Homo sapiens: one gene and its partners. Each later gene encodes a partner of the first gene's protein in a complex. Each region holds a gene or a part of one and is shown on either strand. Other genes may lie near its edges.

Region 1 (3,500 bases):
GATATTTTGGTATAGGCAAGCAATGCAAAATAAACAGTATGGAACACTTCACGAATCTGTGTTATCCTTGTGGAAGGGCCATGCTCATCTTCTCCGTACCATTCCAATTTTAGTGTATGTGCTGCTGAAGTTAGCATGCATGTCCATTTTCTTTTAGATGATACACTCTGAATCATTTTCATTTATTGTAGTTGAAAGAGTAACTGGTAGGCCCAAATAAATTTCTTTATATGGTGTTTTTCCCCTTCACCTTCAAACTAAATACTTTGAACACTTTTTCTACATTTATTTAGTCTGCCATCCATATTTAGTAGCTTTATCTTGACATTTCATACTATTTTATATAAAAGTATAACTTTTGCTTAAGGAAGTCACCTTCCCAAGAGATCTTTTAAGATACTCCCTACGACTCTTCTCAATCCACCTCAGATCGCTCTACCAGCTTTTCATATTCACTCTTTTTCCTCCTTATTCTATTCTTCAGTGCTTGTCAACTACAAAGCAATCATGGTTCACATAATAAAATAAATGCAGAGTCACTCACCCTGTAGAGTTTCCACGGTGGGTGCCACTGGGGTTTTGGCATTGTAGGGGCTTTTTTAGCCATCAGTGCAGAGTTCTTGGTATTGCCAGTCTCCATGACAATCTAGACATAGAAGAGACATTATTATTATTAAAGACATCATACCTAAGGCTTCATGATATCAATTCAGAAATGGAAATGGAAAGAGGGAACTTACAAAAGAATTTTTCCATAAATGAAGAAATACAATTTTCTGTATGTTAACTTAAAAAAGCAATTATAAAATCACAGACAGGCAGAGCATTAGACTTAAGAGCACACATCACTGTGTACGGGTTCAAAACCCAGCTTGGCCAATTACTAGCTGTTTGACATTAGGTAACAATCATGTAACCTCTATGTGGCTCACCTGTAAAATGGGAAGAATAGTGCCTATTTCATAGGGTTACTACAAAGATTTAATAAGTAGTAAATGCTCCATGTAAGCTCCCAATATTAAAGTCATTTTAAGTGTATTAGTGCCACTGTCTTTCATTGTCATATTTTAACATTATTGGTTTAATATAGCAAAGACTGACAGTTCCTTCTATTTATCTTCTAATACAATATTTAAATACTATTTTAACAGGTATACTGCCTGATATACCATCTGTTGTTAGCAGTCATCTAGTCATCCAAAACATAAATAAGCCCATAAAGTTCCTGCCCTCAAGAAGCTTAAATTATACCCTCATAAGGAGGGTAGAGAGCCTGGACAGAAGACGTGCTCTGAATGGAATAAAGGAGGAAAGGAGATGTGGCAGTTACACATTCATTCACTTCATAAAGTCAAATCAATTGCATAATGAGCTGAGAAGCAAAACCAGCACTTATTTCAAGTGGCAGCATATTTTATTATGCTGCAGATAAATCAATAAAATAACTATAGAAAATTCAACAACTATTTCTACCATACTAATACCAGTTGCCATTTACTTACAAACAGATAAACTTATTTCTAAATGCTCATTTATAAGACTAGTTGTATAGCCCATGAATAGTACAACACTAACAGCACTCAAGATAACTGTACACACCAACTTAAAATTTAATAAAAAAAAAAAGACTTTCATATTCAATACATACTAACACAAGTTTCAGAAAAACTCTCCTTGCATTTTTAATAGTGGGCAATAAATACCAACATCACATTATCTTTATCAAAATATATATTACACACAATGTACAAGTAGACAAATAACAGAATTAAATTCCAAAAAATACGTTAATTTACTACCAACTTGAGTTTTAGGGCTATGAAATATGAATGACTAGCTCAGGCTGCTATTTATCTTAATAATTCCAAAGAAGAGGGAAATATGGCAACATGTTCCAAAAGTTAGAAACCTGCTATTTGATGCAGAAAAACTTACTGAATTCATCGCTGTAGGCTGTGGACGGTCAGAAGCCCCAGGATGTCGGTATTCACTTCCACTAGGGGCAGTACGATTTGCATCAGCCCTGGGGCAAAAGAAATAATATTTTCAAAGTAATTAATGCCTCCAGTCATGTATTCTGCAAAACTAACCCTTTATTTTAAATTGTTATAAAGTCCTGATAAAGGAAAATGTCATATAATAGTTATAAAGAAATTTTAAAAAGAAAAAATGTGAACAGTGAAATATGCTTTTAAGATCTTTGTAATTATAATATTTCATACTTGGTCTGCAAAGGTAATGCCACCGCTAAGGACTGTGCAGCTGATTCACTTGGCATTCTCTGGATCTTAGTATCTGCTGTCAAAGCAACCCCTATTAAAATGAAAAATCAACTTCTTTTAGTAGCTGTGTATTATTCATTTACATGCACTTAAAATAAAATGATGAAGGAAAACATACACCAAATGTTTATTATCTCCAGGCAGTGATATTATACAAATTTGATTAAGTTTTGCTCATCTTTGTTTTTAATTTCTACAATAAATACTGCTTAATAACACGTAACTCAAATTTGATTTGATCACAGCCCACATGGTATTAAAGCAGCCCAGAATAGTAAAGTTAATTTCCATTATATTTGGGTATTAGTTTCAAGTCAGTATTAAGCAGTTCCTCAAATACTAACAGAATGTTTCCAAGAGTGGATGTAACTTACTAAAACTAGAAACACCCAATTTCCCTGTACTTTCTTTACATACTAAGCCTTTTGTCCTCTACCCTGTTACACTGGCCACTCCATCTGTGGACCAATGCCTTAATACAGACAGAGGACATGTTTCTCAGATACTGCTTCTAACATTTCCATCATTTTTACAAGCTTAGTGATATTTACATGTCTGCCTAAACCACCAGATAATAAATAACTAGGCCTGCAACAGTTTTACTGTCTTTGAATTCCTAGCACATTGCCTGAAAAATTATACGTACTTAAGAATGTTTGCTGAATGAAGGCATATGAGTATTCATTATTACCTACAAAGCTATGCATGGATGCTTGGCTACTGAGCTTATCTTGCATTTTATAGGCAACAAGAATCTCATTATTGGCTCGTTAGTGAAAATATATGTGACATTTTTAAGACATTTTCAATATATAACAGCTCACTAACCAGGTCCTGGTGGGTATGGATGTGTACCTGCCACAAAGTATTCAACTTCTTGTCCTAAAAAAACACAAAAAAAATCAACAGTAGTGAATTTACCTTATACAAAAGTTATCATCTCTTTAAATGTATCAAGTAATATTAAGTTTTCAACTGGATCTATCAAATTTTCTCAACTAAAGTCAAGCCTCAGAAATAAGGGAAGTTGATCACTTTTGCTTTGATCTCTGTAAACCATGTCCTTGACCATTTGCTATATAGCAATGGTATACAAAGAAGCCCTCCTATCAAGTGACAATCCACTCTGGTATTTCTTCCAAGCAAATGGTTTCCTGTGGAATCTTGAATTCTCTTTACTTATTAAGATTTCAGTATTTAATTTCATCTTTCTGAATT
Region 2 (3,500 bases), on another chromosome or scaffold:
AAAAAAAAAAAAAAGAAAGAAAGAAACAAAAAAGAAAAGAAAATATTTAAGGCATATGCAATAGAATCAAAGGGACAAAATATATCATTCATCCTTTTCTTAGTCCTTGTTCACACCCTTCCCCCACTCTGACAGCTATTTCAAACGTTTGCCACTCTAAAAGCCTGGTTCTCTCTCAGCTGATGTCCACATCTTATATTTTATCCATTCATTACACAAACATTTATTGAATTTTCATTATATACTAGGTACCATGGTAGACACTACATGAAAATGAGTATGACACAGCACCTGTCCTGATGAACTCCCAGACTAGTGGAAGAGAGAGACATTTAAACAAATAAATTAAAAGAACAGCATAAACTCTGGTAGAAATACGCATGGGGTGTCATGGAAACAGAATGGGTATCTTAATCAGCTTGGGGGAGGTATGATAAAAAGGTGACATGAGGGTTGGGCAAGAATGATCAGTAAAGGCTCTGTGTTAACTACAGCACTGGGGATGGAAGGGCCAGAAAGGGTCTGGAGGTCATTTCAGAACAGAATGAGCAACAAGAACAAAGGCACGGAAATAAGAAGTGGCCTGGTATGTGCAGCAAACCAAAGGCAAACTGGTATGGCTGGAACCTGAAGTATGACAAAGGGAACAGCCATGAGTCAAAGTTGGAAAGGCGCAGAGGCCAATGCATAATGAGCTGCGTAGGCCATGGTAAAAAGCTTAGATTTCATCCAGAAACGATGGGTTTAAAGCAAGAACTTAAACTGCATTTCAAAGAGATCACTCTGGAGGGGATCTGGGGCAGGAAAATCACTGCAATGGTCCAGGCAACAGATGATGAAGGCAATGATAAAGAGGGACGGAAGAGAGAAGACACAGGAGGCAAAATTAGTAAGACTAATTAGCAGCACTAATTGATTAGGTACACAAGGACAAAGAAGGAGGAGGCAAGTTAGAGAGCACAAGAGTAGGAGCAGGCTTACAGTAGAAGCTGATGAGTTCAGCTTTGAATACAATGCATTTGAAATCTCTCAAGTCTAAATCAATAGAGAAATCCAACAAACAGCTAAATACACCAGACCAAGATGCAAATACTGATTTGGAAATCATGTACATATAGGTCATAGTTGAAAACATGACTAGGTAAGAATCAGCCAGAGGGAGCACATAGAGTGAGAACAGCTAAAAATTATGGATGGAGCCCTGGGAAAGACTTAAGAGGTGCACAGAGGAAGAGGAGTTTGCAAAGGTGGCCAAGAATGATCAGAGAAAAGAACCAGGAGTAGGGTGTCATGGAAAACAATACAGGGGTGAATTTCAAGGAGGTAGTGAGTGGACCTCAAATCCCTTTAATTACCATGCATTCTCTTGGTCTTCTTATCTAAACTTCTTAAAAAGCCTGTATTCACTATTTGTTTCCTCACTTTTCATTCACTCCTTAATACATTAGAACCTGGCCATTGTTTCACTACACAACGGAACTAGCCCTTTCAGGTCATCACTGACATTCCTTGTTGCCAAATCCAATGACTCCTCCTTCCTCTTCCCCAAATCAGCAAACAGGTCCCACCAGCTCACCCCTGACCACATCCCCACTTCCTATTCTCTTACTAACCATCCTTACTACCACTGCCTGCAAGTCGTAGTTCAGACACTCATTACTTTCAGCCTGAGCTACTGCAAAAGCCTTGTATCTGTTCTACTTCCAATCTTGTACCTTTCAAATCCTTCATATTACTGCTATAATGGATTTGTCTATCTAAAATGCAGAGCTGTTTTTAATCCTTCCGTGTCTCCCCTTTACCTCTAGGGTGAAGACCAAGCTCCTCAGATAGGCTTCCAGGGCCTTCTGTGATCACGGTCTGCCAACCTCTCTCATCCATCTCACGCTTTATGCTATCCAACAACAGCAAATTACTTAGGGACCCCCACCACCTGGTAACACCATGGTGTCTCATAGCCTTATGACTCTGCACATATAGGACCCTCTTCCTTTAATATCCTTCCTTTCCTTCTTATCTTGGCTGGTTACCAACATCCCTTAAAACTCAGCTCCCACATTTCATCCGTTAGGAAGCACTTCCTGATCACTCACATCCTCCTAAGGCTCAACTTACTCTTCCTTTGTGCTCCCAAAACATCTTGAAAATCTTCTATAGTAACACTAACCAAACAGCGTTGAAACTGTCTGTCTTCTATTCTAGATTGAAAGTGAGCTCCTGGGCTCAGGGGCTATCTCTCTTTAATCATGGAATCCCTAGTACCTACTACCTAGCTGCTTACACTTATAACATGTATGCTAAGACTTTCCCTTAAGGGATGAGTGGAGTGAGTAACAGAGGGCTTTAAGAAGGGAAGCTTGGCCGGACATGGTGGCTCACGCCTGTAATCCCAGCACTTTGGGAGGCCGAGGCAGGTGAATCACCTGAGATGAGAAGTTCGAGACCAGCCTGGCCAACATGGTGAAACCCTGTCTCTACTAAAAATACAAAAATTAGCTGGGCGTGGTGCTCACGCCTGTAATCCCAGCTACTCGGGAGGCTGAGGCAAGAGAATTGCTTGAACCTAGGAGGCGGAGGTTCCAGTGAGCCAAGATCGTGCCATTTTGCACTCCAGCCTGAGCAACAAGAGCGAAATTCCGTCTCAAAAAAAAAAGAAGGGAAGCTTATTATAAATGGCATCCTCTCCAACCTTAGAAGCATGGATGGTATTCCAAAGCACCAAGGAAACCACTGTTTTTTACCTTGGAAATAAGGTCTTAAGAGAGTTACACTAATATGATAATACAAAGGACATATGAATAACAAACACCAAATCCTAAGCAGAATCAGAAAACAAATTGCAGGAGAACTCACAGTGGAAAGAGCTTTGGACCAGAGAATCAGGAACGCAGAGTTCTAATTCCAGCTTTCTCAGGGAAATTGCATGACTCTAGGCAAACTGCTTATTTATTGGGCCTCAGTTTCTCTTTTTTTTGAGACGGAGTCTTGCTCTGTTGCCCAGGCTGGAGTGCAGTGGCACGATCTCGGCTCACTGCAAGCTCCGCTTCCCGGGTTCACGCCATTCTCCTGCCTCAGCCTTCCGAGCAGCTGGGACTACAGGCGCCCGCCACCACGCCCAGCTAATTTTTTGTATTTTTTTTAGTAGAGACGAGGTTTCACCATGTTAGCCAGGATGGTCTCAATCTCCTGACCTCGTGATCTGCCCGCCTCGGCCTCCCAAAGTGCTGAGATTATAGGCATGAGCCACCGCACCCGGCCCCGTTTCTCTTTCAATTAAGAGAGGCTGGGTAATTATCTTATGGGTTTTTCCAACAGATACTATATATCTGTTCCGGAAATATTCCCTTGCAGCAGGCCGAAAAGAGACAAAACTAGAAAAGATGATGAAAGATGAATAACAAAAAGAAAGCAAGGGTGACAAAGGGAAATAAGAGAAGAAATCTAGGATAAAATCAGAACAAGAAGTGGAAAAAAGCAACTGAGAAAAATGAAGACAAATT
Region 3 (3,500 bases), on another chromosome or scaffold:
CAAAGCCCCTCTGGTGGCTGGGTGGGCGTGGTGACTCACACCTGTAATCCCAGCACTTTGAAAGGCTGAGGTGGGTGGATCACCTAAGGTCAGGAGTTAGAGACCAGCCTGGCCAACATGGTGAAATCCCGTCTCTACTGAAAATACAAAAATTAGCTGGGCATGGTAGTGGGCACCTGTAATCCCAGCTACTCGGGAGGCTGAGGCAGGAGAATCATTTGAACCCGGGAGACGGAGGTTGCAGTGAGCTTAGCTCACGCCATTGCACTCCAGCCTGAGCAACAAGAACAAAACTGCATCTTTAAAAAAAAAGCCCCTCTGCTGTTCTACCCTTAAGGGGCCTGGTTCTATTTAGTTGTTTGGCTTTTCTTGTTTGTTCTGTAAAGACTTAAAATGCAGTTTATGATCATGACCTAATCTGGGTACCACAGTCAAATATTCCTTCCATGGAAGAGCCAGATAGATTTTTTTTTTAATATGGGCAAAAAATCAGAGCCATTTGAGCATTAAAAAGAATAATGATGTGAGATTATAAAATACTGAAAAATAAAAATTCATGAGTCCAATTTGACACACACAAACAAAAAACAAGGGAAAAAAATCTGTCACCAGTGAAATGACTGTTACAGCAAACGCCTTACTCTAAAAATTCGTATTTAAAAGGAAACAAACATTTACCCTTTTTAAGAAGGAACTGTAGCTTGTTCCTAGTTGTTGAGGAAAAGCTCTTCTTTATAGACAAATTCTAGCCAATACACGTAACAGGAATGACAGAATCAAAAAATCACCATTTCGGCCGGGCGCGGTGGCTCACGCCTGTAATCCCAGCACTTTGGGAGGCTGAGGCAAGAGGATCACGAAGTCAGGAGATCGAGACCATCCTGGCTAACATGGTGAGACCCCATCTCTACTAAAAATACAAAAAATTAGCCGGGCGTGGCAGCAGGCGCCTGTAGTTCTAGCTGCTCAGGAGGCTGAGGCAGGAGAATGGCATGAACCCGGAAGGCAGAGCTTGCAGTGAGCCGAGATCGCACCGTTGCACTCCAGCCTGGGCGACAGAGCGAGACTCTGTCTCAAAAAAAAAAAAAAAAAATCACCATTTTGCAATCCCCAATAAAAATAACATGTTCAGGAAAGGATTACCAGTGGCTTCTAAAAGCATTTGATGAAAGGCTATTGGTAGAAAGGATATTAATACTAATATATAGATACACAACTGGATAGTATGTCCCCGTGATATGACATAATATGAAGTGCACATCACCGCCCAAGAAGTGTTCCTGCCACAACTGTTTAATCTGAGTGTCAATAAGCTTTAGACCCAATTCCTGCTTCAAAGAAAGCACAGGGCAGAGAAGTACTTAACACCACAAGATAAGAATCAGGCAAATCCAGAATGTAGGACACTGCAAGGTGAGACAGACAGAGAGAGAAACAAACTTAACATCTAAGACCCAAATGCAATGCATGAACCTTGACTGCATTCTTGTTAGGAAAAAGCAGTCATTAAAGTTATTTTGAGGGTAATGAGGGTATCTTTTATTGTAGAGAGATCTTAGTCGATACATAAGAATTACTGTTCAACTTCCTGACTGTGACAAGAGCATTCTGATTTTAGAGGACAATATCTTTATCCTTAGCAGGTACACACTGATGTACTTAGAGATAAAACGCCATGATGTCTAAGACTCTTTTAAATGGTCTGAAAAGAAAAAACATACCACATTTACAATTACAATGCAAATACTACCCATAGTATTAACCATTTTTCAATCTGAATAGTGTCTATGAGTGTTCTTTGTTCTATTCTTTCAACTTCCCTATGTGCTTAAATATTTTTGTAATCGAAAAAGAAAAATTACAGCTGGGCACAGTGGCTCACGCCTGTAATCTTAACATTTTGGGAGACCGAGGGGGGTGGATCGCCAAAGGTCAGGAGTTTGAGATCAGACTGGCCAACATGGTGAAACCCTATCTCTACTAAACATACAAAAATCAGCCAGGCATGCTAGTGCATGTCTGTAGTCCCAGCTGCTCGGGAGGTTGAGGCAGGAGAATCACTTGAACCCGGGAGGCGGAGGTTGCAGTGAGCCGAGATCATGCCACTGCACTCCAGCCTGGGCGACAGAATGAGATTCTGTCTCAAAAAAAACCCGAAAAATTAAATTCAGGCCAAAACAGTAACACCACTACCACCACAACTGCACTGAGATGTCCCAGAAGCCTAACCACAGTCAATTTCAGGAAGAGATATGAGATAAATTGGTCAGGAGAGACCTGGGAACCAGTAGGCCATTCTTAGAACTCCAAAAGTTGGCCGGGCACGTGGTGACTCACGCCTATAATCCCAGCACTTTGGGAGGCCGAGGCAGGTGGATCACCTGAGGTCAGGAGTTCAAGACCAGCCTGACCAACATGGAGAAACCCCATCTCTACTAAAAATACAAAATTAGCCAGGCGAGGTGGCTCATGCCTGTAATCCCAGCTACTCTGGAGGCTGAGGCAGGAGAATCGCTTGAACTCGGGAGGTGGAAGTTGCAGTGAGCCAAGATCACGCCACTGCACTTCAGCCTGAGCAACAAGTGCAAAACTCTGTTTCAAAAAAATAAATAAATGAATTTTAAAAAGTAAAAACGGCCAGGCGTAGTGGCTCATGCCTATAATCCCAACACTTTGGGAGGCCAAGGCGGGCAGATCACAAGGTCAAGAGATCAAGACCATCCTGGCCAACATGATGAAATCTCCTCTACTAAAAATACAAAAAATTAGCCGAGTGTGGTACTGCAGGCCTGTAGTCCCAGCTACTCAGGAGGCTGAGGCAGGAGAATCGCTTGATTCCTCCACCAGGGAGGCACAGGTTGTAGTGAGCTGAGATCGCACCACCACACTCCAGCCTGGCAACAGAGTGAGACTCCATCTCAAAAATAAATAAATAAAAATAAAAAATAAAACAAAACAAATAAAAAGAAGGCTGGGCATGGTGGCTCACGCCTGTAATTCCAGCTCTCTGGGAGGCCAAAGCAGGTGGATCACAAGGTCAGGGGTTCGAGACCACCCTGGCCAACATGGTGAAACCCCGTCTCTACTAAAGGTACAAAAAATTAGCCAGGCGTGGTGGTGTGCGCCTGTAATCCCAGCTACTCAGGAGGCGGAGGTTGCAGTGAGCCGAGATCGCATCATTGCACTCCAGCCTCGGTGACAGGGCAAGACCCCGTTTCAAAAAAAAGAAAAAAGGTTTAAAAAAAAAAAAAAAAAAAAAAAGGAACTTCAAGAGTCTCAAAATTCTATTGGGGTATTGGGGAATCTAAGTGTGACTTTACTTGACAAGACCAGGCCTTTGGAAAACAGCTTACCCTACCTAGTTTCACACCATAAAAAGTCCAGTTTATGAATTACAAGGGCTCTGTCCCTGTCCAGTGAGAAGACACAGGGAGATCACAAAGCCACATAAGGGGTGCAGGAATTAGGTGGTGGGAAGGTATTTGGAGATGGTGTGCCTA
Region 4 (3,500 bases), on another chromosome or scaffold:
GGAGGAGCCGAGGACAACTGATGAACTCAGTGATACCCAAAGCCCTGCCTTAATTAATGCAATCAGGGGGCCAAACCATTAAATGCAGGGTCATGTTAGTGCATGAGATTAACAAAACGGCTGGGTGAGTTCTACGACTCATGTGAGATTCAAATCTTTCCTAGCTGTGGTTTGGTGCTACCTTGTGGGTCAAGCTTAACTACTGAAGGCAGGCGAGGACTTTCAGGACAGTGACAACAGAAGTTGCAAGGACATCCTGGTTTAGAGAATACAGGGATGTGCAGTTCCTACCTCCATCCCCCTCGTTCTCCGGGTGGGCCAGCCTGCTGGCTTCTTCCTTGCCTGGCCTCTTCCCCAGCCCCTTTAGGCTTTCCTGCTGCAGAAGGGGCGTCACCCACCCCCATGATATCCCAGTTCATCCTGGGCATCATCCTGGATGTCTACTGCTCTGGTATCTAATGAGAGGGCTACTTCCCCTGTCCCCCACAGCCACCTTTCCACGTACAAGCCTAATCTGAGTAGAAGAGACTAAGTTAGTTAGATCATCGTTATACTCTAAAATACACCCACATTTAGATGGTCATCTAAAGTAAGACTAAACACGTATCTCAAACAAAATTATATTTGACTTGAGATGCTCACCTCTGGCATGTCTAAACGTGGCTGACTGATGGCTAATTCATAGATTGCCCGTGCTCTGTCAATATCACCAAGGATTGTCTCTAATTCAGCGAATTTAATCCATGAGGTACAATTTTCAGGTCCAAATTCCAGGAACTTTTCATAAAGCTTCCGGCATCTGTCAAATTCTCGAAGCTGTAGCTCCAATTCTATGTAAACTTTAAATAATTTGTTCTTTGGACATTTGCCTATGGAAGTTCCCTGGAAAATAAAATAACCAGACCACTGTGATACTGTAGTGGATTTAATCTGTGCAGTTATTGCACTGCCCTAGAGGCTGTTCTCTGCTGAGGAAGAATCTTGCAAAGTCAACATGGCCTACCATTCTTTCCCTCTGTGGTATCACAATGTTTACTGGTTCTTGACAAAAGGCTGAAGGAAACTCCTCTAATTCACTCAGCAAGAGGCAGTGTTCCAGAATTGTTTGGGCAACTAAATAAAATAAGATTTGAAAGTTTCTCAGGATCTCCTAGGGAATAGGGATGTCAAATGCATAAAACCTCCTATAAATAAAAAGGACAAGGCATGGTGGCTCATGCCTGTAATCCCAGCATTCTGAGAGGCCAACATGGGAGGATCATTTCCGCCCAGGAGGCAGAGGTTGCAGTGAGCCAAGATCGCGCTACTGCATTCCAGCTTGGGGAACAGAGCGAGACCCTGTCTCAAAAAAAAACCAAACAAACAAAAAAAAAAAAAAGAAAAAAAAAGTGGAACAATTAAAAGTGCATTTAACACACCAAAAAGTTTGCACAGGATCAGATTACTAATTCCAGTCTGTGGAAAGATTTAGTAACTGGTAGCTATAGAAGTTTCCAATATTGAAACAGAATGTTAATTTGCCCCAGGTAATAAGAATAATTTACGCATTATTAGTCAGTGTTTTTACAGAGGACGCATGTTTTCTAACATGTCCCAGGCTATAAAGGTATAATACTTCTGTCACTCTTTAAAGTAGGAACTGTACAACTTCCAAGCACCAAGATTTTAATTTCTTTCTCATAGAACTTGATGAGACATCTTGATCCTTTCTTTACTTACCAATGCTCTTCTGGCTAATGACAGATTCTTCTGTCGTATTTCAAACTGTGCATACAGTATCCACATTTTGGCAAATGTGAACTAGAAAACAAAAGCACAAAAATATCTAGCTTAAAAGCCTCATCCAAATTAAATTGAATTAAAATTAATTTAAATTAACCAAAGCCATTGGTAATTCGATTTCTCTAAAACTTCAGAGTAAGAGGAATGTACTCTGCTTATTTACAAGCAAAGACCACATTCATTTCACAAAAGTTAGAAACCCACATACCATGATCCAGATACTATATTGTACTGCATGGCATGGTAACCTCTCCTGAGAACCATGATCCAGATACTGTACTGTACTGTATGGCACGGTAGCCTCTGCTCAGAACAGACTTTGTTTTGTAGGCATGCTTGTATATGGGCAGAATGTCCTACCTCTATTCTGAAAAGTAACTCAGTCAACACTTCTACAGAAGGAAACACGTTTTGTTTCTCGTGCTGGGAAACAAGGCGGAGGTAACATCTCAACCATCTACACAAGGGGCACATTCATCTGTGCATGCACACACTCACTGTTACCAACAAACCCGCCTGTGTGTCCCCCGCACACGTTGTGTGCTCTCTGCATGGATGTCTTTCTCCTTCCACTCAGACTATTCACATTACCTAGCCTTCTCTGAATTTATATTATTTGTTTGTCAATGCAGGTTGTCCTCCAACCTAGTCTGTGAGCTGTTTTCAGAGGCAAGGAGCATATCTCAGTCTTATTTATGTTGTCCATGGTGGGACAGGGAAGCATTTTATCAATCAATATTATTTCACTGAATTACTTCACAAGTAACAGAAGAGGATTCTGACCTGTTTGAAATGGAACACTTTAGAGCAAACATACCTTTTTGTGAGGAATTAGTTCCAAAGAGGCTTGATACACCTGTCTTGTCCTCTCAGGATCCTGTATTAGGATAAGAAATTTTCACAAAATATTGAAGTCTGCTGCTAACACTCATTTTACTAGTTACTAATTTTACTGATATTGGTAAAAATGTACACCCCCAAAACAGCATGTTTCACAAGTTGTTACTTGCAAACCCTGATTTATGATCTAAAGTATGAACGGCCATGAAACTTCAGTTTAAGAATCACCAACAAGATAGCCACCAAACTTCTAAGCCCTTCTTTGTAGAAAGCCGTTTTGCCTGATGGCAGAAAGAAACAAAGATGTTTCATAGTCTCAGATCAAACCCAGAAGGTTAATACAAATGATTTCTGAAAATGCCACTTGATTTTTGCTAAAAGCAAAAATGCATAATCTAGCCAGAATTACTCCTATTAATGAGCAAATCCAGGAAACTATATTTCACTAAATTAAGGGCTGGTTCACTGTTCTCTTTCAAGCTCCAAGTGATATCTTGTTGTGCCTCAAGTAAAAATCAAACCAAAGTTAAAAAAGCCCCTCACGTGTGGCCACAACAAGCACAGAGGGTTTAAAATGTTGCAGAGCGAATATATAACTGTATGGATGAACAGAAGCCTATAAAAATTTAAAACTAAATTTCCTTCTTTCAAGAATTACAAACATCCACAATAGGTGAGCTGTGAATACAGAAGACAGGAAACCATTATCAGCTGACACATAATTCTGTTTTTTCACCTTTGCCTCCAATTCTTCATAGAGTGCATAGTTGATCCAAAGATAAATGTAGCGCTTCCAGTGCCTCTTCTCCTGAATGGGTGGGACATTGGCAATGGCCCTTTCATAGACTTCTCTCACGGCTTCAGCTTCTGCGTCACTT
Region 5 (3,500 bases), on another chromosome or scaffold:
AATGCTTAGCTCTCACTGTGGTAATTTCGTGAATGTGGAGGAAACTACTAAAACTTTGATATACTAAATAGACAGCTCTGTCCCACATTTATGTTTATTAAAAACTGACATAAACAAACACAACCTGTACAAAAAATATCCCAAATCTCATATGACTTTGAAATCTTGAGAGACATTATCGCCTAGGACCCCCTCTTCCTCTGCCACGGCCACGTCCTCTTCCTCTTCCTCTTCCTCTGCCTCTTCCTGCAACTGAAGGAAAAGAAAAACAAACCAAGTTCAATTCTCTCCTGCACCAATGTTACCTAGACACCACAAACAACATTTACACACACACCTTTCCCTGTTTATAGCTCTTTATTAGTAGCTACAGTAAATAAAGTTTAACTAGCTTCTGTTAAATGTGTTAGACTTCAGATTCCCTCCACCCCCCAACACATTATCATGCAGAACCAATAACTAAAGGCCTAGGGAGATTATTATTTGTTTCATTTCAATTTATTTACTAAGAAATGTGTCAAATTTAAAAATACTTTTTCTTTATATCATGTCTCAAATTCACCATAAAATGATTTGAACCTCACAAAAAAAGGGAAGATATATATCACAGAATAAAACATGATCACCTTGATGCCAGAGTTTTGGTAACTGAATAAAATCCAAGCAAGTTAATTCAAAACCAGGAAAGTTTAAATGTATTACATCAAATCACAATCTTATTAACTCTTCAGAAAATTAAAACTCATTTGACCTACACATAATCTAGTGCTTTAATCCAAATAGTAATATCCCTACTGGGTCATCCTAACTCTAGTTGAGTATCATGGTGATAGGGAATTCATGACCCAAATAAACTTATTTCATCTTCAGACAGCTAAGAATATTAGAAAATCTTGACATAGAAGTCAGTCACATTCTAAATGTTTTTGTTTTTGTTTTTTAAATACAGGGTCTCACTCTGTAGTCCCATCTGGAGTGTAATTACACCTCACTGCAGCCTTGAACTCCTGGGCTCAAGTGATCCTCCCATCTAAGCCTCCTGAGTAGCTGGGACTACAGGTACAAACCATCATGTCTGGCTAATTTTTAAAATTTTTGTAGAGATGAGGTCTCCCTTTGTTGCCCAAGCTGCTCTCAAACTCTTGGGCCAAAGCAATCCTCCAGCCTCAGCCTCCCAAAGTGGTGGGATTACAGGTGTGAGCCACCGCACCTGGCCACATTAGAAATTTGTACACACTGATTCTAGTCTTACCATTCTAAGCAATAAATAGTAAGTTTAAGATGCTAATTAAGGGACATTTCACAAAATAACTGGCCCGTACTCTTACAAAGTATCAAGGTCACAAAAGGAAAACTGAGGAGAACCAGCTGATACGCATTAAAGGAAACTAAGGAAACGTACAAGTAAATGCAACCTGTTGTACTGGATTGGATCTTGGACCAGGAAAAGGACATTAAAGGGACAATCAGAGAAATGTGAGAAAGGTCTCTAGATAATACAGTAGTGACACATCAATGTAAAATTTCTAATTTTTTGTAGTTATATGACATTTTAACATTTAGACAATCTTGGTGAAAAGTGTATGGGAATTCCTTGTACTATTTTTGCAACTTTTTGTGTCTAAAATTATTTCAAAATGAAGTGTTTAAAAAAATAAAGAAAATGGGAAAAACAGAGTTGGAGGGGTGTTGTAAAACAACAACAACAACAACAACAAAAGGGCTGGGCACCTGTAATCCCAGCTACTTGGGAGGTTGAGGCAGGAGAACTGCTTGAACCTGGGAGGCAGAGGTTGTAATGAGTGGAGATCGCGCCATGGCACTCCAGCCTGGGCAACAGAGCATGACTCTGTCTCAAAAAAAAAAAAAAAAAAAAAAACCCAAGAAAAGAAAATGGACCAGGTATGATGGTGGCTCACACCTATAATCCCAGCACTTTGGGAGGCCACAGCAGGAGGATTGTTTGAGACCAAGAGTTCAAGACTATCCTGGACAACATAGGGAGACCCTGTCTTTACAAAAAAATAAAAAATAAAAAATTAGCCAGGTTTGGTGGTGCATATCTGTAAAAAAGAAAGATAAATTAAGAAAACAACTGCTCACTGCAATCTCCGCCTCTCGGGTTCAAGCGATTCTCCTGCCTCAGCCTCCCGAGTAGCTGGGACTGCAGGCGCCCACCACCACGCCCAGCTACTTTTTTGTATTTTTAGTAGAGATGGGGTTTTACTCTGTTGGCCAGGCTGGTGATCCACCTGCCTCGGCCTTCCAAAGTGCTGGGGTTACAGGCGTGAGCCACCGCGCCCAGCTGCTGCTTCTTTTTTTTTTTTTTAAAGAAAGAAAATAAATGTTTATTCAAAAAAAAAAAAAATCCAAACATTTGGGAGGCCAACGCAGAAGACAGCCTGAAGCCAGGGGTTTGAGGCTGCAGTGAGCTATGATCATGCCACTTCACTGCAGCCTGAGCAACACAGTGAGATCTTGTCTCTTACCAAACAAACAACAAACAAAACAATTTTTTTTTTTTTTTTGAGACCAAGTCTCTCTCTGTTGTCCAGGCTGGAGTGCAGTAGTGCGATCTCGGGTCACTACAACCTCTGCCTCCCAGGTTCGAGCAATTCCCTGCCTTAGCCTCCCGAGTAGCTGGGATTATAGGTGACCGCCACCACACCTGGCTAATTTTTGTATTTTCAGTAGAAATGGGGTTTCACCATTGGCCAGGCTGGTGTTGAACTCCTGACCTTGTGATCCAGCTGCCTCAGCCTCTGAAAGTGCTGGGATTACAGGCGTGAGCCACCACACCTGGCCCAAACCAATAATTTTTAAATAACTCCCTAACACTAGACTATGACAAACTTGAAACGAAGACTCATTTTCATTATTTAATTTGTTGTAGTTTCCTTTTTTTTTTTTTTTTTTTTTGGCGACAGGGTTTTACTCTGTCACCCAGGCTGGAGTGCAGTGGCGTAATCTCGGCTCACCGGAGCCTCCATTTTCTGGGTTCAAGAAATTCTCCTGCCTCAGCCACCCGAGTAGCTGGGATTACAGGCATCTGCCACCATGCCTGGTTAATTTTTGTATTTTTAGTAGAGACAAAGTTCATGCCATGTTGCCCGGGCTGGTCTCGAACTTCCGAGTTCAGGCGATCTGCCCGCCTCTGCCTCCCAAAGTACTGGGATTACAGGCATGAGCCACCGCACCTGGCCAATTTCAGTTATTTTAAACCGTACTATTTTAAATGTGTACACACAAAAACTGTAAGTCTAGAACACGTTAAAATGGGCCAAATTGACCACACTTACCTTCAATTTCTTCTGAAATAGTATTTATGATAGAAAAGGAACAAAAATGATAACTACCCAGAGGAACAAAGAAAAGCAGAGAAAACACAGTAGATAAAAGATTTTGGGCCAGGCACCGTGGCTCACGCCTGTAATCCCAGCACTTAGGGAGGCCCAGGCAGGCGGATCATGAGGTCAGGAGATCGAGACCGCTTGGCTAAC
Region 6 (3,500 bases), on another chromosome or scaffold:
TCCCACCTCAGCCTCCCAAGTAGCTGGGACTACAGGTGTGCTCAACCACACTGGCTAATTTTTAGGTTTCATTTTGTAGAGACAAGGTTTCATTATGTTGCCCAGGCTGGTCTTGAACTCCTGGGCTCAAGCAATCCTCCCACCTTGGCCTCCCAAAGTGCTGAGATTGCAGGCGTAAACCATGGTGCCCAGCTGTTTTTTTTTGGTGGGGGGATGCTGACGCGGGAGGATCACTTGAGCCCAGGACTTCAAGACCAGCCTGGGTGACATAGGGAAACCTCATCTCTACAAAAATAAAAATTAAAAAAGTAGCTGGGGCTGGGCGCGGTGGCTCACACCTGTAATCCCAGCACTTTCGGAGGCAGAGGCGGGAGGATCACCTGAGGTCGGGAGTTTGAGACCAGCCTGACCAACATGGAGAAACCCCGTCTCTACTAAAAATACAAAATTAGCCAGGTGTGGTGGCACATGCCTGTAATCCCAGCCACTCGGGAGGCTGAGCCAGGAGAATCGCTTGAACCCAAGAGGCGGAGGTTGCAGTGAGCCGAGATCACGCCATTGCACTCCAGCCTGGGGAACAAGAGCGAAACTCCATCTCAAAAAAAAAAAAAAAAAAAATTGGCTGGGCATGGTAGTACATGCCTGTGGTCCCATCTACTTGGGAGACTGAGGTGGAAGGAGCACTTGGTCCTGGAAGGTCGAAGCAACAGTGCGCTCTGATCATGCCACTACACTCCAGCCTGGGCAACAGGGCAAGACCATGTCTCAAAAACAAACAAACAAACAAAAATCCTTCTGATGTGAAAACTGTTTTTTAAATTGGGGCTTCAGCATCATGCAAGGGGGTACTGGTGGGAGCAAAGACAGAACTGCACAGATGGGAGACAGCAGGGGCTGGAGTTGATGATGGGCACAGGGGAGGCGTATCACACCTCCTCACTCCACTTTCACGCACGGGGAATTCCAATTAACAAAGAAACAGGTGGGGCGCAGTGGCTCACGCCTGTAATCCCAGCACTTTGGGAGGCTGAGGCAGGTGGATCACTTGAGCCCAGGAGTTCGAGACCAGCCTGGCCAACATGGTGAAACCCCGTCTCTACAAAAAACACAAAAACTAGCTGGGTGCAGTGGTGGTGCCTGTAGTCCCAGCTACTTGGGAGGCTGAGGTGGGAGGATCTCTTGAGCCCAGGAGGCAGAGGTTGCAGTGAGCTGAGACTGTGCCACTGCATTCCAGCCTGGGTGACAGAGACCTCATTTCAAAAGAAAAAAGGAAACACAACAAAAGAAGCTGACTGCCAGGTCAAAGTTTTAAAAGAAAAAAAAAGGCTGGACCTCATTCCTCCCTCAGTGGCTCTCATCTTGGAGCGGAAGCCCAAGTCCTCCTGTGGCTCCCAGGCCCCACAGGACTGCTCTGCACACCATCCCCACCCCTGACCTCTGTCACCACATCCCCTGCTTCCACCGCTAGCACACGCTGTTCCAGCCACATTGGACTCCCAGCTGGGCACAGACACCCTTGAGCGTGCGCCCACCTCAGGGTCTTTGCACTGGCTGTGCCATCAGCCTGGCCCTGCACTCCCCCGATGCCCACACGGCTCTCCCTCCCTGCAGCGGGTCAGGGCGGCCCTCTCCCCTCCCCCTGCTGTGCTCTACACACACAAGCAGCCTCTGGCACACCCTGCTGAGCTGCTCTCTGGTGTTCTCCCCCACCAGAATGCATGCTCCTCTCATTCAGGAGAGACACAGCCTGTTGTGCTCTCTGCACATGGCAGGCACTCAATAAATATTTGCTGTCCCTCCCTCTCCCTCTCCCGCTCCCGCTCCCCAGGGTCTCCCTCTGATGCCGAGCCAAAGCTGGACTGTACTGCTGCCATCTCGGCTCACTGCAACCTCCCTGCGTGATTCTCCTGCCTCAGCCTGCCGAGTGCCTGGGATTGCAGGCGCGCGCCGCCACGCCTGACTGGTTTTCGTATTTTTTGGGTGGAGACGGGGTTTCGCTGTGTTGGCCAGGCTGGTCTCCAGCTCCTAACCGCGAGTGACCTGCCAGCCTCGGCCTCCCGAGGTGCCGGGATTGCAGACGGAGTCTCGTTCACTCAGTGCTCAATGTTGCCCAGGCTGGAGTGCAGTGGCGTGATCTCGGCTAGCTACAACCTCCACCTCCCAGCCGCCTGCCTTGGCCTCCCAAAGTGCCGAGATTGCAGCCTCTGCCCGGCCGCCACCCTGTCTGGGATGTGAGGAGCGTCTCTGCCCAGCCACCCATCGTCTGGGATGTGAGGAGCGCCTCTGCCTGGCTGCAACCCCATCTGGGAGGTGAGGAGTGTCTCTGCCTGGCCGCCCCGTCTGAGAAGTGAGGAGCCCCTCCGCCCGGCAGCCGCCCCGTCTGAGAAGCGAGGAGCCCCTCTGCCCGGCAGCCGCCCTGTCTAGGAAGTGAGGAGCGTCTCCGCCCGGCAGCCGCCCCGTCCGGGAGGGAGGTGGGGGGCAGCCCCCGCCCGGCCAGCCGCCCCGTCCAAGAGGGAGGTGGGGGGCAGCCCCCGCCTGGCCGCCGCCCCGTCCGGGAGGTAGGGGCGCCTCTGCCCGGCCGCCCCTTCTGGGAAGTGAGGAGCCCCTCTGCCCGGCTGCCACCCCATCTGGGAGGTGTACCCAACAGCTCATTGAGAACAGGCCATGATGACGATGGTGGTTTTGTCGAATAGAAAAGGGGGAAATGTGGGGAAAAGATACAGAAATCAGATTGTTGCTGTGTCTGTGTAGAAACAAGTAGACATAGGAGACTCCATTTTGTTCTGTACTAAGAAAAATTCTGCCTTGGGATGCTGTTGATCTATGACCTTACCCCCAACCCTGTGCTCTCTGAAACATGTGCGGTGTTCACTCAGGGTTAAATGGATTAAGGGCGGTGCAAGATGTGCTTTGTTAAACAGATGCTTGAAGGCAGCATGCTAGTTAAGAGTCATCACCACTCCCTAATCTCAAGTACCCAGGGACACAAACACTGCAGAAGGCCGCAGGGTCCTCTGCCTAGGAAAACCAGAGACCTCTGTTCACTTGTTTATCTGCTGATCTTCCCTCCACTATTGTCCTATGACCCTGCCAAATCCCCCTCTGTGAGAAACACCCAAGAATGATCAATAAAAAAAAAAAGAGGTTTGGAGAAATAAAAAATAAACAATAACACACACACACACACACACACACACACACAAAATAAATAAATAAATATTTGCTGAATGAGACACACACACACACACACACACACACACACACACACTGCTGATCACAGGAGGGGAGGCAGCCCACCCTCGGCCACCAGGGTGGAGCGCCGTGTCCTCCACCGACGTCAATGACGTGCTGAGGTTCACCCATTCATTCACCTGCGAATGCTGCACCGACTGGGGACCGGGCTCTGGGCTCAGACAAGCGGGGCAAAAGGGCCTTGGCCTCAGGTGCTACAGCATCTCCCTGGAATGCATGCACCCAGTAAGCAAGGACAACCCCTAAGC
Region 7 (3,500 bases), on another chromosome or scaffold:
ACTCCTCTCAAACAATCCTCTACCTCAGCCTCCCAGAGTGCTGGAAGCAAGCCACTGTGCTGAGCTGCTGGTCACCCTTCCTACATTAACAACTATGGATGTGCCAATCAATGCTGAGATGCTCTGATATGCTCCCAAGAATCTGTTTCCACAAATCACCACAAAACTACTTGTTGTAGCCAGTATACGAGCCAAGGAAGCTGGCCACTAGGATCCCCTGAATTACTTTTTTTTTTTTGAGGTGCAGTCTCGCTCTGTCACCCAAGCTGGAGTACAGTGGCATGATCTCTGCTCACTGCAATGTCCACCTCCTGGGTTCAAGCGAATCTTCTGCCTCAGCCTCCCGAGTAGCTGGGACTACAGGTACATGCCACCGCACCCGGCTAATTTTTTTATTTTTAGTACACACGAGGTTTCACCATATTGGCCAGGCTGGTCTCGAACTCCTGACCTCGTGATCCGCCCGCCTTGGCCTCCCAAAGTGCTGGGATTACATGCGTGAGCCGCCGCACCCAGCCCCTGAATTACCTATGACTTTATCAAGGGAAAGAGTCACCTGTGTTGTTAAAGCTGAGCTGATGACAGCTCCACAAATGTTAACTGAACAAAGTGCCACACTATGTGCCTGTGTCTGAAGATGAATGAGACACAATCTGTGTGTTCTCGGAGCTTCTCCAAGGTGAACTTTTCTGGGGCTTAACCTGCAACTGGCCAGGAACAGCAGCTTAAAATCTCATCAATAGCTGTGCTATTTCAAAGTACTGGCATTCTCCCAGGACATCCCCCAGGGTGTCAAAATTTAGCCAAAGCAAACTTCAAATGAACACAAAGTCCTTATTTTCTCAAAGAAAACAAAACAAAACAGAACAAAAAACCCCCCAGATTTATTTAGCTTAAACATTTCCCCTGATCTAAAGAGAAAGATGGCAAAAGATACCTAGCATATATGCACAAGCACCCACTCCAATGAACTCAGATAACCTGAAAGAAAAAAGGACAAAGTTCTGTTCAACTTAGAAAATTATCTTCGCTTTTGAAAGATGTTTCCACGTCCCATTCCACGTCCTCTTCCTCTTGCGGCCACTGAAAGGGAAGAGAAAATATGAGGCCAGGTCAGTGTGGTCGGTGAATGCTCATAGCACAGAGTAGCCAGGGCCCTAGGACACCAGTTAGAAGGGTTCTGAAGGGTTACCTGGTCCAACACCACCCTGGCCATTGCATTTCCACCTCCCGCCTTTTTTTTTTTTTATTTTTTGAGACGGAGTCCCACTCTGTCACCCAGGCTGGAGTGCAGTGGCATGATCTCGGCTCACTGCAATCTCCACCTCCTGGGATTAGGCGATTCTCATGTCTCAGCCTCCTACTTGAGTAGCTGGGACTACAGCCGTGAACCACAACGCCCGGCTAATTTCCTGTATTTTTAGTAGAGACAGGGTTTCACCATGTTGGCCAGGCTGGTCTTAAACTCCTGACCTCAGGTGATCCACCCACCTCGGCCTCCCAAAGTGTCAGGATTACAAGCATAAGCCAACACGTCCAGCTGACAGCCACTGCATTTAACAGGGGGGATGGAGACGGAGGGGCAGGGGCTGGGGACTGGCATCAAAGCAGGAGCTAGCAGCACACTCTTGCCTTCCAGTCCCACACTGCTCTCTACAAGAGGCTGGGAGGCAGCATGCTGAGGGCAAAGAAGGTGGTCTGAGAGCTACAGAAAAGACAAATCCTTGGGGCTGGCCTTGGGTGAGCTGAAAAACATTATAGATGCACTGAATTAATTTTTTCAATTCTGAAACAAATATAGTTAAGTGTTAACATGTGTTAGATCTGGGAGAAGGGTTATATTATCTTTTGTATTTTTTTCTGAGAAAATAATTATTTCAGGCTGGGTGCAGTGGCTCATGTCTGTAACCCCAGGGCTTTGCGAGTCCAAGGCAGGCAGATCACTTGAGGTCATAAGTTTGAGACCAGACTGGCCAACATGGCAAAACCCCTTCTCTACTGAACACACAAAAATTAGCTGCACGTGGTGGTATGCGCCTGTAATCCCAGTTACTTGGGAGGCTGAGGCAAGAGAATCACTTGAACCTGGGAGTTGGAGGAGGTGGCAGTGAGCTGAGATCAAGCCACCGCACTGCAGCCTGGGTGATGGAGACTCAGTCTCCAAAAAAAAAAAAAAAAAAAAAGAATTATTTCATAGTAGCAAAAAGAAAACACACTCCATATAAATAGCATGATAAGACTGCTGTTCTCCTCTGTAACCCAGGGGTTCTAGGAGAAGACAGGCTTTGAAGAACAAATAAAATATTCTTTTTTTTTGAGATGGAGTCTAGCTCTGTCACCTAGGCTGGAGTGCAGTGGCACGATTTCGGCTCACTGCAACCTCCACCTCCTGGGTTCAAGCGATTCTCCTGCCTCAGCCTCCCGAGTAGCTGGGACTACAGGGACCTGCCACCATGCCCAGCTAATTTTTGTATTTTTAGTAGAGACGGGGTTTCACTGTGTTGGCCAGGCTGGTCTCGAACTCCTGACCTCGTGATCTGCCCACCTCGGCCTCCCAAAGTGCTAGGATTACAGGCATGGGCCACTGCGCCCGGCCCCTCACACTATTACATCTTTAAACTTGAGCTTTCATCTATGGTTCCCAGCTCGTAACTCCTATAGTCCTTGTTATAGTCTTTTGTTATAACATTGGGGCACTTTAGGCCTCAGAAGCAGGACTCAGGAGACAGAATCTCTCTCTTGAAACTTCTCCTGCCCTCCTTTCACCTGCCCAAGGCAGGACCCTAATCTGATTGTGGGTCATAAGACCTCACTCCAGAGAAAGGTCCTGCCCTATACCCTGGAGGAACAAATGCTGCAGAGAGAGGCCAAAAAGAATCTGGACAGGCCTCGCGGGGTTTCCCAACCCCGTCTATTAGTGTTAGATCACACCCATTTTGTCTAATGGCATTTCCACATGGTTGTCCATCCTTTAATCATGACTATCCAATAAAGTCTCCATAAAAGGCCCAAGAGGGCAGGGTTAGGGGAGCTTCGGGACAGCTGATCATGCGCAGCCTGACAGGAAGGTGAACAAGAACTCATCCATGTGCCGGGAGGAAACTCCATGGGGCTAGAAGCTCTTGTGCTTGCGACCCTTCCAGATCTCACCCTATGCATCTCTTCATGTGGCTGTTTATTTGTAGCCTATAAAATATCCTGTTATAAACCAGTAAATTTAAGTATGTGATTCCCGAGTTGTGTGAGCTACTCCAGCAAATTAATCGAACCCAAGGAGTGAGACGTGAGAACCCTGGCTTGAAGCCATTCAGATGTTCTGGAGGCCTGTGCTTATGAATAATAGTGGGGGGTGCAGGGGCTGTCTTGTGGGACCGAGCCCTCAACCTGTGGTTTTTCAGGCTATCTCCAGGTAGATAGTGTCAGAACTGAAGGACACCCAGCTGGTGTCTACTGCAGAACTGACTGCTTGCTTGGTCACAGAAGTCTTTGTTGATTGTTGT

The links.
Region 2: PLRG1 (region 1) and BUD13 share a complex: the UniProt entries of both Homo sapiens proteins name them as parts of the minor spliceosome.
Region 3: PLRG1 (region 1) and DHX16 share a complex: the UniProt entries of both Homo sapiens proteins name them as parts of the minor spliceosome.
Region 4: PLRG1 (region 1) and CRNKL1 share a complex: the UniProt entries of both Homo sapiens proteins name them as parts of the minor spliceosome.
Region 5: PLRG1 (region 1) and SNRPD1 share a complex: the UniProt entries of both Homo sapiens proteins name them as parts of the minor spliceosome.
Region 6: PLRG1 (region 1) and PPIL2 share a complex: the UniProt entries of both Homo sapiens proteins name them as parts of the minor spliceosome.
Region 7: PLRG1 (region 1) and SNRPD3 share a complex: the UniProt entries of both Homo sapiens proteins name them as parts of the minor spliceosome.

The regions. Positions count from the first base shown.
Region 1 is NC_000004.12:154,543,901-154,547,400, forward strand, and holds part of PLRG1 (pleiotropic regulator 1), read right to left. Parts: intron 3,165-3,500; coding exon 3,111-3,164; intron 2,314-3,110; coding exon 2,223-2,313; intron 2,024-2,222; coding exon 1,936-2,023; intron 647-1,935; coding exon 545-646; intron 1-544. UniProt on the Homo sapiens protein: Involved in pre-mRNA splicing as component of the spliceosome. Component of the PRP19-CDC5L complex that forms an integral part of the spliceosome and is required for activating pre-mRNA splicing.
Region 2 is NC_000011.10:116,748,988-116,752,487, forward strand, and holds part of BUD13 (BUD13 homolog), read right to left. Parts: intron 1-3,500. UniProt on the Homo sapiens protein: Involved in pre-mRNA splicing as component of the activated spliceosome. As a component of the minor spliceosome, involved in the splicing of U12-type introns in pre-mRNAs.
Region 3 is NC_000006.12:30,666,507-30,670,006, forward strand, and holds part of DHX16 (pre-mRNA-splicing factor ATP-dependent RNA helicase DHX16), read right to left. Parts: intron 822-3,500; exon of another isoform or gene 679-821; intron 308-678; exon of another isoform or gene 1-307. UniProt on the Homo sapiens protein: Required for pre-mRNA splicing as a component of the spliceosome. Contributes to pre-mRNA splicing after spliceosome formation and prior to the first transesterification reaction.
Region 4 is NC_000020.11:20,038,967-20,042,466, forward strand, and holds part of CRNKL1 (crooked neck-like protein 1), read right to left. Parts: coding exon 3,359-3,500; intron 2,660-3,358; coding exon 2,600-2,659; intron 1,801-2,599; coding exon 1,720-1,800; intron 883-1,719; coding exon 643-882; intron 1-642. UniProt on the Homo sapiens protein: Involved in pre-mRNA splicing process. As a component of the minor spliceosome, involved in the splicing of U12-type introns in pre-mRNAs.
Region 5 is NC_000018.10:21,625,814-21,629,313, reverse strand, and holds part of SNRPD1 (small nuclear ribonucleoprotein Sm D1), read right to left. Parts: intron 253-3,500; coding exon 176-252; 3' UTR 1-175. UniProt on the Homo sapiens protein: Plays a role in pre-mRNA splicing as a core component of the spliceosomal U1, U2, U4 and U5 small nuclear ribonucleoproteins (snRNPs), the building blocks of the spliceosome.
Region 6 is NC_000022.11:21,676,012-21,679,511, reverse strand, and holds part of PPIL2 (RING-type E3 ubiquitin-protein ligase PPIL2), read right to left. Parts: intron 1-3,500. UniProt on the Homo sapiens protein: Has a ubiquitin-protein ligase activity acting as an E3 ubiquitin protein ligase or as an ubiquitin-ubiquitin ligase promoting elongation of ubiquitin chains on substrates.
Region 7 is NC_000022.11:24,569,499-24,572,998, reverse strand, and holds part of SNRPD3 (small nuclear ribonucleoprotein Sm D3), read right to left. Parts: intron 1,084-3,500; coding exon 1,022-1,083; 3' UTR 1-1,021. UniProt on the Homo sapiens protein: Plays a role in pre-mRNA splicing as a core component of the spliceosomal U1, U2, U4 and U5 small nuclear ribonucleoproteins (snRNPs), the building blocks of the spliceosome.